5 linked regions of the Homo sapiens genome follow. The protein of the gene in region 1 purifies or fractionates together with the protein of each later gene. This does not show direct contact. Each region holds a gene or a part of one and is shown in the gene's direction. Other genes may lie near its edges.

Region 1 (3,523 bases):
TATTTGATAGCACAACAGGGTAATTATAGTCAATAATAATTTAATTGTTCATTTAAAAATAACTACTAGTATGACTGGATTGTTTGTAACACAAAGGATAAATGCTTGAGGGGGATGGCTAACCTGTTTTGCATGATATGATTATTTCATATTGCATGCCTGTACCAAAACATCTCATGTACCCCAGAAATATATGCACCTACTACCTACTATGTAGCCACAAAAATTAAAAATTGTAAAATAAAAAAAAAAGTAGAGTGGGCCCGAGTAGCAAAGGCATTGGGTCCCCAAGAAATCGGAGTTCTTCATCCTTTTTCAAAGTTGTGTTTAAAACCATTCTTGAACGCTTTAATCCTAAAACTGTTCAGATCGCTGGGCGTGGTGGCTCACGCCTGTAATCCCAGCACTTTGGGAGGCCGAGGCGGGCGGATCACGAGGTCAGGAGTTCAAGACCAGGCCGGCCAAGATGGTGAAACCCTGTCTCTACTAAAAATACAAAAATTAGCCAGGTATGGTGGCAGGCACCTGTAATCCCAGCTACTCGGGAGGCTGAGGCAGGGAATTGCTTGAACCCGGGAGGCGGAGGTTGCAGTGAGCAGAGATTGAGCCACTGCACTCCACCCCGGGCGACAGAGTGAGACTCCGATCTTAAAAAAAAAAGTGTTCAGATCAAGAAGAACAAGAGAACAAGTTGAGTTTGTGCCTCTAGAGTCTCTTTGGTAGTAGGAAGGACCACAAACTTCCTACAAAGTTGTATTTGGTTTGTGGCTCCTGGCTTTTTTTACTGATGGCAGCATAGGACTTAGACTTAGCAGGACCTTCAGGACAAACTGCTGAAAGTCTTTGTGATTTCTCTTCTCATATCCTAGCCATGGTGACATAGCTGCTCAAAGTCTGTCATTTCTAACCTGCTTCCTCTCCAACATGAAAGGATGTTTTCCTCTCAGGTGCCCCATCTTCTGCAGTGGCTAGTGTTTTAAAAGAACACTTTGTCTTCTTGTAATTACATTGATTGCCTTACAAAACAGAAGGATTCACAAGGTTGATTTGGGCAGGCGAGAGATGGAGATTTCTGGGGGCTGTTGGTAAATATCCTGGTGGGTCTTGTTGAGAGGATTTGATGAGATATATTGGCTGGTGATACAATGATACTGCCTGGTTTTAGGGGGCTGTTCATGTGCTAAGTTGGCTCAGGCGGCAGTTCCAAGATTTGAAAACTTCCCATGGCCCTGCCCTCCGGTCCCTTTTGAAAGGAATTTCACCAGAAGAAGGAAGAGGGGGTAGTAGAGGGCAGCCGCCCTTAGGGAGGGAGTGTCCACTGTCCACCTCACATCTGAGTCGGCCGCATTTAAATATGGAGTTTACCGTCTTGGCATCTGAGGCTCTGGGTCTGACTAGGCCTTGGGATCCCGCCTCGTCTGCCTCTGAGGTCAGTCTGAATGCAAGCCCCCATCTGCTTTTCTGTTGGGAAGCATTTGTTTTCCTCTTGCCTAGGAACTTTTTCTGTTTTTAAAAGCCTTGTGACTAGCAGAGTTTGGGTTGTCATTTAAGCGAAAGGAAAACAGGTATGAGTGAGCCGCATGCATGCAAAGCATTTGAGGCAACAGCAGTGATGCCAAATGCCTGAGATCCTTGGAATGACAGGGTCTGTCCCCAGGGCTCCTAGCTTCTGACCAGTGCTGGGTTCGTTCACCACCTAAAAAGACTTGGCTTTTCCTCTCAGTGCCAAATAGGTTGGTGCCTTGTAGCCCCCAGGCAACCCTTTGGAATGTTCCTTGCTCCTTTGTCATCTCACCCGCTTCATCCGTCCCACCCTCTGTGTTTCTGTAATAACAGCTTTATGGCTGGTCGTGGTGGTTCACACCTGTAATCCTAGCACTTCAGGAGGCTGAGGCCCACAGATCGCTTGCACTCAGGAGTTCAAGACCAGCCTGGGCAACATGGCAAAACCCTGTCTCCACAAAAAATACGAAAAATTAGCTGGGCGTGATGGCACGTACCTGTAGTCCCAGCTACTTTAGGGGCTGAGGCGGGAAGATTGCTTAAGCCCATGAGGTCGAGGCTGCAGTGAACTGAGATTGTGCCACTGCACTCCAGCCTGGGTGACAAAGTGAGAGCCTGACTCAAAAATAAAAATAAACAGCTTTATCATCTGTATAAAATTCATATGCCATATAGTCCACCCATTTAAAATGCACAATTCGATGGTTTTTAGTATATTCACAGAGTTGTGCAGCCATCACCACAATCAATTTTAGAACATGTTCACCACCCCACAAAGAATCCCCATACTCACTGACATTCTTCATTCCCCCGGCCTCACAACTACCCATCTGTCTATATAGAGACCACGAGACTTCTGCCGGGACAGTCTTCAGCCTTTGGTGCAGACACGCGTTGCAATTGCCTAGAAGTCTGTGGGTGGGTCTTCATGCATTAGAGGTTTAGAAACCAATATTCTGCATACTCTGTCCTTCAGGTCTAAGACGCGCTTTTACCCTGAAGCCTTGCCTTTTCACCTCCTGTACATTCCCACTCCACAGGGCCTGCAAAGCGCTCAGAACCTGAATGTAATGTACACAGCGGTCTGCAGTTATATACTGCACATGTTCATTTTAGCTTCCCAGACAGTAATGGCCGCTAATTGTTGAGCACTTATGTGCCAACCCTCATAGTTCTGGGGGTTGCCTGGGCTTATTGGAGAAGTTCTGCTGCTCCATTTGGGGTCACCTGGAGTCCCTCATGCTGGTACAGTCTGCTGGTCTGCTGGGAGCTCAGTTGGGCTCGAAATGTCCAAGATGGTCTCTCATTGTCCAGGTACCTAATCACAGAGAGTCTGTCCTGGACTTTCTAACAGCGTGGCTGCTGTGCTTTGAATAAGGAAGCAGAAGTTGCCAGTTCTCTTAAGGCCTGCACATAGAAGTCCCAGAATGTCATTTTTGCTGTGTTCAGTGGTCAAAGCAAGTCCCAAGGCCAGCCTAGATTCAAGGGGAGAGGAAATAGACTCCACCTGTTGATGTGAGGGCAGCATGCACCTACTGGGAAATGAGAAATTGTTAGTGGCCCTTTTGGAGAATATCTACTGTAATAGGCAAGTACAGTCGTTCCTTGGTATCCATGGGGGATTTGTTCCAGCACCTCTCAAGAACACCAAAAATCAAGGATGCCCAAGTCCCTGATATAAAATGGTATAGTATTTGCGTGTAACCTATGCACATCCTCCCTTATACTTTTTTTTTTTTTTTTTTTTTGAGACAGAGTCTCACTTTGTCACCCAGGCTGGAGTACAGTGGCACGATCTCAGCTCACTGCAGCCTTGACCTCCCAGGTTCAAGCAATCCTCCCACCTCAACCCCTCCAAGGAGCTGGGACTATAGGCATATACCTCTATGTCTGGCTCATTTTTGTTTTTGTTTTGGTTTTTTTGAGACAGAGTCTTGCTCTGTCACCCAGGCTGGAGTGCAGTGGTGCGATCTCTGCTCTCTGCAACCTCGCTTCCTGGGTTCAAGTGATTCTCCTGCCT
Region 2 (3,079 bases), on another chromosome or scaffold:
ACTAAATATCCTCAAGGAGTCACTGACAAGTTTTTACCAAGAAGAGATTCAGGTGAGTTGCCCTGAGCCAGCTCCAATTAGCTGCTCAGATTTCCATCACTAGCTTGCCTGAAGTAAAGAGATTTTATAAACTACTCCAGTAAGGGCAGGAATATATAACTCCCTTTTCTCTATTCCCCATAGTGCTTTGGGTTCAATCTATGTTTGGTGAATTGATTAAGGGTTTAGTTGGCCAGGAAATCGTATTAAGTGCTAACAACAGGTTTTCAAGGGATCAGTGTCACAAGTGCTTTGTTTGTTCAGTCATCTGTCTTAGCAATATTTTTCTGGCTCTGCAAAGAATTGTGCTCTCTGCTTCCCTCTTAGGAGCGGGATGAAAAGATTGAAGAGCTAGAAGCTCTCTTGCAGGAAGCCAGACAACAGTCAGTGGCCCATCAGCAATCAGGGTCTGAATTGGCCCTACGGCGGTCACAAAGGTTGGCAGCTTCTGCCTCCACCCAGCAGCTTCAGGAGGTTAAAGCTAAATTACAGCAGTGCAAAGCAGAGCTAAACTCTACCACTGAAGGTGAGGAAAGAGACAGGCAGGAAACATAACAGTGGTTCAGGGAAGAGCTGTTACTTAAACCCAGGCCTTCTAACTCCTGCTCTAACATAATTTCCTAAACTGCAAGCTACATCCCCCTGACATTTCAATCTAGGATACACATAGCCTCACTTTTTATATTTGCTGCAAGCTACTGTTACCTCAGTTAAAGAGGTTAGTCCAAGGCTAAAAAAACCCCACATATTTTAAGTTTCCTGTTTCCTTCCCTCAGAGTTGCATAAGTATCAGAAAATGTTAGAACCACCACCCTCAGCCAAGCCCTTCACCATTGATGTGGACAAGAAGTTAGAAGAGGGCCAGAAGGTAATTACCACCATTCTCTGTTTACCAAACTCTTACCTAAGGCAATTTCCCACATCCAACACTCTATCACTGGTTCATGTGAAGACAAGATGTTTTTTGTGCACAGTTCTGGAGAGTGGCTATTTCACTCAGCTGACTAGCCTTTCTAATTTTACTTCTCTTCAAATGGCTACCTGACCCCTCCAGATCATTATCCTGGTTGCTCTTGGCCACAATATGATTCCTACTTCCCCTTTTTCAGAATATAAGGCTGTTGCGGACAGAGCTTCAGAAACTTGGTGAGTCTCTCCAATCAGCAGAGAGAGCTTGTTGCCACAGCACTGGGGCAGGAAAACTTCGTCAAGCCTTGACCACTTGTGATGACATCTTAATCAAACAGGTTAGGGCAAACTATATACCCACTTCTGTCCTACCAGCCCACTCCAGTGTATATGTGAGAAAGGAAAGAGGACCAGAAGAAAAAGGTAAAGATTTTTAGGCTGAATTTATAGTGAGAGCAGTATATTTGCAAAATAAAAATAACTATTCTTTGTTAAGCATTTACTAAGTACCAGGCACTGTGCTAAGTAATTTATAGGCATTTTCTGTCACAACCACCTTAGGGAGGTAGTTACTGTCATATTTCATCTAAGATGCTACTGATTATAAGAAACCATTATTTTATGTACTACTAAGAAAAAAGTAACAATTTCTCATCAGTAAGATGCATCCTGATTCCAAAGAGATTAAAATGTTAAAATTGTGTATCTTAAACTAAACTCAACATTTAATTTGACATTTAGAGACTGAGGCACTTAGAAATTAAATTTACTCAAGCTCATACTACCTTATGTGTTAGAAGATGTCCTATTCAGCACTGCTTATGTTTTGTTCTCAGAAAATGTCCCCTTATTCAGTTATAAGCTCCGACCTTAAAGAGTTTTAATCTTTGAAGAAACAGTTGTTAGTAACTAGTAATGGATGGTATGTATTACCCTTAGCCCTCTCGTTTCTCTAATATACCAGACAAAAGTGTTTTCTATAACTTTATTGATCTTCCTTAGGACCAGACTCTGGCTGAACTGCAGAACAACATGGTGCTAGTGAAACTGGACCTTCGGAAGAAGGCAGCATGTATTGCTGAGCAGTATCATACTGTGTTGAAACTCCAAGGCCAGGTTTCTGCCAAAAAGCGCCTTGGTACCAACCAGGAAAATCAGCAACCAAACCAACAACCACCAGGGAAGAAACCATTCCTTCGAAATTTACTTCCCCGAACACCAACCTGCCAAAGCTCAACAGACTGCAGCCCTTATGCCCGGATCCTACGCTCACGGCGTTCCCCTTTACTCAAATCTGGGCCTTTTGGCAAAAAGTACTAAGGCTGTGGGGAAAGAGAAGAGCAGTCATGGCCCTGAGGTGGGTCAGCTACTCTCCTGAAGAAATAGGTCTCTTTTATGCTTTACCATATATCAGGAATTATATCCAGGATGCAATACTCAGACACTAGCTTTTTTCTCACTTTTGTATTATAACCACCTATGTAATCTCATGTTGTTGTTTTTTTTTATTTACTTATATGATTTCTATGCACACAAAAACAGTTATATTAAAGATATTATTGTTCACATTTTTTATTGAATTCCAAATGTAGCAAAATCATTAAAACAAATTATAAAAGGGACAGAAAAATTAAGAATCAAACATCATTCTGGACCATGGGAACCTTGAAAAGGCATGGCAGTGGAGACCAGTAACTAGTATACAGCTTGCCTGAGAAGGCTTAGTAACAAATGAATTCAAGTCGTATTAGATATTCTAAACCTTCCTTAATATAAGATGAAGTGTCATATGTTAGGAGGTAAAAACGTAACACAAAATTCTGGGAATAAGAATAAAGTCTGGACCCTGAGCTCAGAATGATCCATAGCATCTACTGTGCAAATATATTACAGCAGACATTATAGCATATTACCTCCTGCTGTACACACATGCACAGGCCTGAAACTCTCCAAGAGCACCATAAGAATGATTCCCTTTACCTCATCTAGATAAAGGCTGAAAAAAATGTATTCTGTTGCAGATGGGAGGGAAAAAAATAGACAATTACGTTGAAAATTTATTAAAACAGACCAGCTTGAAGTGAGTTTATTCTTGTCTGTATAATCACCAATGTTATTTCCAAATGTCCGT
Region 3 (2,940 bases), on another chromosome or scaffold:
ACAGGCCATTTTAGATGGGGTACACATGTCCCTTCCCAGGGTCCACTCAGAACTTTCCTCTTGGACTCTCTAGAAGGTCCTGCTGTCCTATACCTGGCCACCCCCTGCCTTGGGGGGCACATGTCTTCGTTCCCTCCCGACTGGGAATGTCAGGCTCCTGCAGGCCAGCTGCATGCTCTCCAGGAGCACCAACTGGGAAATCCCCTGACAGGTAAAGTCCTTTAAAATGATACTTTTACCTACCTAACTCTGGGGGCCAAATGCTTAAGAGGGAAAGGAAACAGTCGAATGCAAACAGTGTGTCATACCAGAGTCCTGGAAAATTTATTGAATCACACAGGGTAGTCATAGAACCCCTGTGGGATGGCTTAATATTTTGCTACTTTAAAATGCAGAGATAACAGAAACAATCTGGATTTTCTTCATTCAGCTGATAAGAACTTCAGTTCCAGTGGCTGTATGACATAATTTTGCCTGTACCCAGGAGCATTTTTTAAAATACAGGATTTTAAAAGCAATGTTAAGTTGCTGATCTAACTAGTAAATTTGCTCCTAAGTGTCATTTACAGATTATTTCTGTTGAAACTGCAAACAGATTTAGAAAGGCACAGGGACTGAATGACTCTCTGTCTTACACAGCTACTCATGCACACACGCACTGCTTACTAAAAGCTGAAGTGAGATGAAGGGGGCCTACACGAATAACAAGTTCAACTTCTTTGTGCCTGGAAAGGAGGGACTGGAGCAGCCAGGAGACTCACTTTCCCCCCTCGCTTGGGCCCTTCTCTATGCCTTAGTCTCTCCAGCACATGCACACAGCATGCACACACACGCACCCTACCCAAAGACAGCTGTGGCCCTCTCCCACCACCTCCCCCTTCCCACCGCTGGTTGTTGGGGGCTGGAGGCGGGAGGTCCCATGGAATTTGTTCTGGTTTCTAGGATGTAAACGAGGACTCCAAGCCATGAATTGCCCTGCTTTCTAGAGGGTGGAATGTTGACCCTGCAACTTTAGAAGCACAATCATTTATTAATAATTTTTTTGAAACTCCCATCTACCCCTGTTAGAGAAATCAACAGGTTCTAGGAATTAAATATGTCTCTTTGTAACCCAGAGCATGTTCAATTTTTGGAAACCGTATTTCAGTGATTTTCTTAATACCTTACATGTGTAGGGCATCTTCCCCCAGAATCTTACAGTCCCTTTCTGTGAAGAGAAGTGGACACACGTGGGAACTCTCACCATCTCTGGACTGTCGTCAGGAAACGCCTGCAGGTCCTTGCCCTGTCTGTATGGTGTCCTCACTTCTCCATCCATACAGGTGGCTCCAGTGGGCATTTTTTTATTTTAAATTTTTTACATGAAGCAATAGAAGTACAAAATACTTATTTTTTCAAAATTTAATGTGTTCCATGAAACCTGTTGGCAGTCGCTTTCCTTCCCCCACATCTAAATTCTTTGGTTTTTAGTTGTTTGTTTTTTGGATTTTTTTTTTTTTTTTTTTGGCCTTGTATCCCAAGGACTAAAAGATTAGCACAGACACGTTTTGATGTTGAATGAACTAGTAAGTCACAGTAGGTGGTAGTCTTCATTGATTTCTCTGTAAGTTTTTAAAGAATGTATGAAGATAGTCACGAATGTACTGAGTGTTCGCATCCCCCTTCAGTTCACCTTGGCTGTGTCTACAGGACAACAAATGTTTGACAGGGAATAAAGTCGTGTCTGGTGTCATTTGCGCTAGCGTGCCCCTCCCCTTTCGGTGTTGGCTCCAAACCTTCCTTTCCTTTTATGTTTGTGGGGAGTGGGGAACCACATCAGCAGCAATCATCAACCAACCAACCAATGGGATCTACTTAGTGGTGAATAGATTGGCTATTTAATTGGTAAAAGTTGCTGGTCTGACCACACCACAGCATGACCACTGGGTTCATTTAGAGATGGCCTCCGTTTCCAACGTTCCCCACAAATGTTTGCTTCTTTCCCAGTCAAGAGGGGATCTCGAGACTCCCGAGTGGAGGTCGTGAGCTTGCACCCCGCCTGGCTGTGTAGATCGACTGTATAGATACATGAAGTGGGGGTGAGGGCCAAGGGGCTATTACTGCTGTTGGGAAATACTTGCCTCTCGTAGATCCAGCCTTAATGTTTTTCTGACATCCTAGTAATAGCAGACCCTGCACAAAGTGGATATCAGACTTAATACTGTGAGGAGACAAAATAATGAGAATAGTTTTACCAAAGATAATGAAATCTCGCATCATGTCTGCATTTTACCATAGATTGGAGTGCATCCTTAGGAAACTGAATGTAACAAAAACCCAGGACATTTTTGGAAATTGTATGCTCTCTAGCAACTTTGTGTGAATTTTTATACAAACACTGTTTTATGAGTTATATAAAATGTTATAAAAATAGAAAAACATGGTCTCGTAACATGTTATTTTCTTAGAGCACTGGTCTCTCAGAATATGTCTTGGTCTATTTGTCTTTGTGCGTGGCCTCCTCACCCACCTCCCAGGGAAGAACGTGAATATTCCGGGGGATTTCAGCTTCTGGGGCTTCCATACTCTACGTGTCAGGGGTACAGCTCATAGGATTTCAGTTTGGCCACAGCTGAATGAATGAGAAATTGCCAGATAAATCCTCCAAACCATTTCTCCACAAACCACTTCCTGGCCATGTAGTGGGAGGCTTGTTTGACCTTTTTTAACCTTTCCTGGTCAGGTGCCAGGCCAGTCCTGCAAAGCCAGCAGAGTTTCATTTTCATTTAACCGCCTTTTTTTTTTTCACTTTGGATCAAATGGGTTTTAGTTTCCCGCCGCCCCAACCCTGCTAGAGTGCAGTGGTATAATCATGGCTCACTGCAGCCTCGACTTCCTGGGCTCAAGTGATCTTCCTGCCACAGACTCCTAAGTAGCTGGGACTACAGGCCCACACTACCA
Region 4 (3,523 bases), on another chromosome or scaffold:
CTCACACCTGTAATCTCAGCACTTTGGGAGGCTGAGATGGTGGCACATGCCTGTAATCCCAGCTACTTGGGAGGCTGAGGCAGGAGAATCGCTTGAACCTGGGAGGCGGAGGTTGCAGTGAGCCAAGATCGTGCCACTGCATTCCAGCCTGGGTGACAGAGCGAGACTCCATCTCAAACAAAAATAAAATAAATAAAAATGAGATTATAGCTGTATGTACTAATTTTTAAAATAGGTTAGCTGAAGAAAACCAGGAGTAGAATAGTGTATATAGTGTATTACCACGAAAATAAAGGAAAAAAGAGGATCTACATATATCCGTGTGTGTGCCTCTGTATGAATAAACTCTCTAGAAGAGCATACAAGCTTAGGTGGTTGCCTCTTAGAAGGGGAATTAGAAGGAGAGAGATTTCACTGTATACCTTTTGCAGTGTTTGAATTTTTTCATTACTCCACATGAAATGAATAAATTTCAGTGCATGTATATGTATATATATATTTATATATATATGGATGGATAGTAAAATGGTGAAATATTTCATTCACGTAAACATTTGTGATTAAGCTTAAAACAATTAGGATCTTCAAAACAAGTCCTTTTCATTTGAACTGTATAAATATGTTCCAAAATTTTATAGTAGTATTTTTTTTTTCATAGCATTTGATTTTATTTGTACGAAATGGATGAAATCCTTGCTATCTCTTAGGGTGGGATCTGCTTTTTCAACTCTGATTTCTAGTGCCTGGCATCTAGTTAGAGCTCAATAAATTTTTATTATACTGAATTATCCTTCATTTTCCTAACTAAGCATCTTTTATCAAGACATAATCATTCCTTTCAGTTCCCGGATTAGCATTAATTACTGGCATTTGCCATACATTGCATTTTTCTATTCCAAATTAGTATTAATGATTTTATGAAGAAGTAGCTGTCCCAAATAAATAAATTTCTTCTTTGTATTTTTAATCATTGAGATTATATCATTATGTTATCACTGAGAAGTAATTTAATTCTATTATATATGCAGACTTTCTAAAGAAGATAAAGCTTTTTTATGGGAGAAACGTTATTATTGCTTCAAACACCCAAATTGTCTTCCTAAAATATTAGCAAGCGCCCCAAACTGGAAATGGGTTAATCTTGCCAAAACTTACTCATTGCTTCACCAGTGGCCTGCATTGTACCCACTAATTGCATTGGAACTTCTTGATTCAAAGTAAGTCAAATACATTTATTTGCTCTTGTTTTATTGTCAGTTTTTCCAGTAAGGTATGTTGCCAGAAGTATTTCCTTTCCTTTTAACATGAAAGCAATTCAATATAATCCAAATGTGTAAATGTATATTTATACAAACATATCTTCTGCATTGAAGTTGTCAATAAAGCATTGCATGTCCTTTAAAACTAGCCTAAAGGAAGGGTTAGGTTGTAAATTTTGAATAATTTATATTTTTATGATGTGGGCCAGAATTAATTTTCATAAACTTAAGATTCCTAAATAATCCCTAAATTGAATCTGTATAGCACAATAAGATTGTCTTCTTACAAAAAGAAGAAATACATTGCTTTTGAATAAAAGAGATATCTTAGTGTTCTTTGTCAGGACCAGATTGAGATTGTGTTTTCAAAAAATACAGCTTCACTGGAAAGAAATCACTGTCCAATCTTGGTTTTATGGTAATCTTCTAGATTTGCTGATCAGGAAGTAAGATCCCTAGCTGTGACCTGGATTGAGGCCATTAGTGATGATGAGCTAACAGATCTTCTTCCACAGTTTGTACAAGTGAGTTTTTTACTAGATTACCTCCCTTTATACTTTCACTCTAGTTTTTTATGGGAACTTGCTAAGGGATCCCCATTCTGTTTAGATTAAAAGTCGTTTTTTAGTGTGGGAACATTGAGGGGCATTGCATTTGGATTTAGTGTGAATTTTTTCCCCACTATTGTCATCTGCCCCATTTGAATATTGTATATAGGCACCTGTATTTTTAGTTTTCAGACTTTTTAGAACAAACCAGACTTGAGCTTTTCCTTGATTTTTCTTTACTGGTGAGTTCAACATAGCTAATGAATGTTACTCTATACTTTTGTGTTTGATTTAAATTAGTTTGGCATAGGTTAATTCATCTATTTAATTTTTATAAGTATCATCTTTCATCAGTAAGAGTAATACTTGCTTTATATAGTTTCTCTTTTGATAGTTTTATTGGAACAATTTAGTATGGGTTAGACCACTAATAATTCTTATTTTCTTTTACTGTAGGCTTTGAAATATGAAATTTACTTGAATAGTTCATTAGTGCAATTCCTTTTGTCCAGGGCATTGGGAAATATCCAGATAGCACACAATTTATATTGGTAAGATTTAAATTTTATTGATTACCGTATTTCCATTCCTAGAATTTATAGAAATGGCATACCCTGTAAGTCTAAATGGTATGCCACACTACTTATTGTGGATACAAGATATTTTATTGAAGGTATTATTTTAAAGGAGCTAAATTTACCCTCTAATGCAAAAATTTGAAAACCCTCATTGCAAAAATTTGGTGTCTTATAGCTCTGTAATAATGAATGGGTTTCGACTTGCTTATATAGCTTAAAATACATTTCTGGTTATCAAAAATTGAGGCCAAGCGTGGTGGCTCATGCTTGTAATCCCAGCACTTTGGGAGGCTGAAGCTAGTGGATCGCTTGATCTCAGGAGTTTAAGACCAGCCTAACAATCATGGTGAAACCTCATCTCTACCAAAAATATAAAAAATTAGCCGAACATGGTGGCATGTGCCTGTGGTCCCAGCTAGTTGGGATGCTGAGGTGGGAGGATTGCTCGAGCCTGGGAGGTGGAGGTTGCAGTGAGGCAAGGTCATGCCACTGGACTCCAGCCTGGGCAACAGAGCCAGACCTGGTCTCAAAAAAAAAAAAAGAAAAAAAAATTGAACTTGTTATTTTTCAGAGAGGTTCACCTAGTTCTTAGAAGTGACTAACATGGCCGGGCATGGTGGCTCACGCCTGTAATCCCAGCACTTTGGGAGGCCGAAGTGGGCGGATCACAAGGTCAGGAGATCGAGACCATCCTGGCTAACACAGTGAAACCCCATCTCTACTAAAAATACAAAAAATTAGCCGGGTGTGGTGGCGGGCGCCTATAGTCCCAGCTATTCGGGAGGCTGAGGCAGGAGAATGGCGTGAACCCGGGAGGCAGAGCTTGCAGTGAGCCGAGATGGCGCCACTGCACTCCAGCCTGGGTGACGAGTGAGGCTCCGTCTCAAAAAAAAAAAAAAAAAAAAAAAACCAAGACGTGACTAACATAAATATTTTGCTGTATTAGGCTTCTCAAAGATGCCCTGCATGATGTACAGTTTAGTACCCGATACGAACATGTTTTGGGTGCTCTCCTGTCAGTAGGAGGAAAACGACTTAGAGAAGAACTTCTAAAACAGACGAAACTTGTACAGCTTTTAGGAGGAGTAGCAGAAAAAGTAAGGCAGGCTAGTGGATCAGCCAGACAGGTATGTACCCA
Region 5 (2,900 bases), on another chromosome or scaffold:
GATTTGTTTCTTGTACATCTGGTGGGTTCCAGGGAAACCTTGTCTTTGGAATCACTATTTCTCTTTAAAAAAAAAAAAAAGTACCAGCAAAACTTTGTTTTATTTTTTTCCTTCAACTTTCCATGGATGGTAATTTTCCATTAAGTCCTGACCTTCCAAGGCTGCGTCTTTTCAGTGTCCTGGACACACTCTGAGGGAGAAGTGAGCTTTCCTGGGATTTGATCTGTTGGCCAGATTTACTATGTTTCATGTAATGAAAAGTATTTAACTGCCTTTTTCAAATCACATGCTTCCTATGGAAAGAATATAAATGGGAAAATAATTTCCATTCCCTTTTCTTCTTGCATCAGAAGGAGATCCCTGGAAGTCAGTTGCTCAGGGAGTGTCTGTCACGTAGTTACTTCCCAGCAACTGTGCTGGACACAGATCCTTGTGTCCATTATGCAAGAGGCCCTTCTCCTTTCTCTTTGAAAGATCTTCCTACTTGAATCTTCCACTCTTGCCTTTAACTTTGCTTAGGTGAAGCTTTCCTATACTTCATTTTTCTTGCACTTTTTTCTCTTTTTTGACCGTGTATCTTTTTTCACTACTATATAAATTTCAATTTTTTTTTTTTTAAATCTTGCTCTGTCCCCCAGGCTGGAGTGCAGTGGCACTATCACGGCTCACTGCAGCTTCAAACTCCTGGGCTCAAGCGATCCTCTTGCCTCAGCCTCCTGAGTAGCTGGAACTATAGATGTGAGCCACTAAGCCTGACCCAATTTCAAAAAATCTTCACTCACCAGTTACCTTACTCTCTCATCTACTTAAAGTCTCAAATTTTCTGAGATATCTCTTTCCTTTAAAAGGCAGGATGTTTGAGAGGGGATTTATTCTTTCCGGACTTTATTGTTAGATAGCTGCCCTTCTGCTCTAGTCCAAATTCAATATGGAAACAGTCAGCCATAAAGGGAGAATGATTAAAATACCCTGAACTGGTCCTTGGTCATTTTAAAATTTTCCACCCTGTGGAGGTAGTATTACTCATTTGGGTTACACTTGTTTTAAACAACAGGAATGGCTAGTTAGGACAACAGAGGCAGGTTTTTCACTTAGGAATTCACTGGATGTGTACCATGTGGTCAAGCATGTTGTGGGCTCTAGGGATACATAGGTAAATAGGGCATAGTCTTTGCCATCAGAGGTGCCAAGGGACGTCTGATGACTGGTTAGAGGTTGTACCTGGTATCCTCCTAAGTTCTCTGTTAGATGGGGCCTGTTCTCAAGGAAGAGGAAATACTTCAATTATATATAACTCCTAGAGAAGAAGAACTTAATTTAAAACTTAGTGACATAGTGCTTTATTTTTCATGTTGTGGAAATGTGAATGTGATTGAACCTCTAACAGAGATGTTTGTGTTGCAGGTCAAAGTTGCTCAGCGGAGCCCAGTAGATTCAGGCACCATCCTCCGAGAACCCACCACGAAATCCGTCCCAGTCAATAATCTTCCTGAGAGAAGTCCGACTGACAGCCCCAGAGAGGGCCTGAGGGTCAAGCGAGGCCGACTTGTCCCCAGCCCCAAAGCTGGACTGGAGTCCAACGGCAGTGAGAACTGTAAGGTCCAGTGAAGGCACTTTGTGTGTCAGTACCCCTGGGAGGTGCCAGTCATTGAATAGATAAGGCTGTGCCTACAGGACTTCTCTTTAGTCAGGGCATGCTTTATTAGTGAGGAGAAAACAATTCCTTAGAAGTCTTAAATATATTGTACTCTTTAGATCTCCCATGTGTAGGTATTGAAAAAGTTTGGAAGCACTGATCACCTGTTAGCATTGCCATTCCTCTACTGCAATGTAAATAGTATAAAGCTATGTATATAAAGCTTTTTGGTAATATGTTACAATTAAAATGACAAGCACTATATCACAATCTCTGTTTGTATGTGGGTTTTACACTAAAAAAATGCAAAACACATTTTATTCTTCTAATTAACAGCTCCTAGGAAAATGTAGACTTTTGCTTTATGATATTCTATCTGTAGTATGAGGCATGGAATAGTTTTGTATCGGGAATTTCTCAGAGCTGAGTAAAATGAAGGAAAAGCATGTTATGTGTTTTTAAGGAAAATGTGCACACATATACATGTAGGAGTGTTTATCTTTCTCTTACAATCTGTTTTAGACATCTTTGCTTATGAAACCTGTACATATGTGTGTGTGGGTATGTGTTTATTTCCAGTGAGGGCTGCAGGCTTCCTAGAGGTGTGCTATACCATGCGTCTGTCGTTGTGCTTTTTTCTGTTTTTAGACCAATTTTTTACAGTTCTTTGGTAAGCATTGTCGTATCTGGTGATGGATTAACATATAGCCTTTGTTTTCTAATAAAATAGTCGCCTTCGTTTTCTGTAAGAATGATTCCTAAGTGTAAAGGCATTCGAATATTGGTACTATTTCTTGCTAATTACAACAGCCTCTTATACACGTGAAAATGTTTGAACAAATGATACAGATCTTTAAACAAATGATCTTAGCATCTTTAGTTGTATTAAAAGACACAATTTGGAATACGGGTCATAAGGAGTATATGGGAATATAAGACGTCCAGCCCAGTGCCTCCTACATTCTGTGTCCCCATTAAACCACATCATCAAGGATACAAGTATGTGGTATTTCCCAGCTCACTTGATGATGATATAGTTTTGAAAGCATGCAGGCATTATAAGCCATGTCAGATCCAAAAACATTTGAACAAGTTCTTACATCCTTGAATCAGGGTAAAAAAGTTTCCCAGGGCATGCGCTAGTAAAAGATCATTTGTTCTTGGCTTTCAGTCCAAATTGATGCACAAATTCCGATAAGCACCATCATTTATATTTAAAAGTTGTCCTTCGCAAGGTGGCCTCTGTTGTTGGATAATGCTTCAA

Evidence for each region.
Region 2: the proteins of MAP7D2 (region 1) and KIF20A purify together in Homo sapiens (affinity purification with mass spectrometry; 2 studies listed by BioGRID and IntAct, with this or other methods). This does not show direct contact.
Region 3: the proteins of MAP7D2 (region 1) and BEND3 purify together in Homo sapiens (affinity purification with mass spectrometry; 2 studies listed by BioGRID and IntAct, with this or other methods). This does not show direct contact.
Region 4: the proteins of MAP7D2 (region 1) and PIK3C2A purify together in Homo sapiens (affinity purification with mass spectrometry; one large-scale study listed by BioGRID and IntAct). This does not show direct contact.
Region 5: the proteins of MAP7D2 (region 1) and CENPF purify together in Homo sapiens (affinity purification with mass spectrometry; one large-scale study listed by BioGRID and IntAct). This does not show direct contact.

The regions. Positions count from the first base shown.
Region 1 is NC_000023.11:20,110,391-20,113,913, reverse strand, and holds part of MAP7D2 (MAP7 domain-containing protein 2), read left to right. Parts: intron 1-3,523. UniProt on the Homo sapiens protein: Microtubule-stabilizing protein that plays a role in the control of cell motility and neurite outgrowth via direct binding to the microtubule. Acts as a critical cofactor for kinesin transport.
Region 2 is NC_000005.10:138,185,146-138,188,224, forward strand, and holds the end of KIF20A (kinesin-like protein KIF20A), read left to right. Parts: coding exon 1-52; intron 53-366; coding exon 367-565; intron 566-815; coding exon 816-907; intron 908-1,148; coding exon 1,149-1,286; intron 1,287-1,950; coding exon 1,951-2,268; 3' UTR 2,269-2,578; downstream 2,579-3,079. UniProt on the Homo sapiens protein: Mitotic kinesin required for chromosome passenger complex (CPC)-mediated cytokinesis. Following phosphorylation by PLK1, involved in recruitment of PLK1 to the central spindle. Interacts with guanosine triphosphate (GTP)-bound forms of RAB6A and RAB6B.
Region 3 is NC_000006.12:107,064,660-107,067,599, reverse strand, and holds the end of BEND3 (BEN domain-containing protein 3), read left to right. Parts: 3' UTR 1-2,418; downstream 2,419-2,940. UniProt on the Homo sapiens protein: Transcriptional repressor which associates with the NoRC (nucleolar remodeling complex) complex and plays a key role in repressing rDNA transcription.
Region 4 is NC_000011.10:17,117,480-17,121,002, reverse strand, and holds part of PIK3C2A (phosphatidylinositol 4-phosphate 3-kinase C2 domain-containing subunit alpha), read left to right. Parts: intron 1-1,028; coding exon 1,029-1,217; intron 1,218-1,689; coding exon 1,690-1,783; intron 1,784-2,263; coding exon 2,264-2,358; intron 2,359-3,331; coding exon 3,332-3,512; intron 3,513-3,523.
Region 5 is NC_000001.11:214,662,187-214,665,086, forward strand, and holds the end of CENPF (centromere protein F), read left to right. Parts: intron 1-1,404; coding exon 1,405-1,608; 3' UTR 1,609-2,385; downstream 2,386-2,900. UniProt on the Homo sapiens protein: Required for kinetochore function and chromosome segregation in mitosis. Required for kinetochore localization of dynein, LIS1, NDE1 and NDEL1.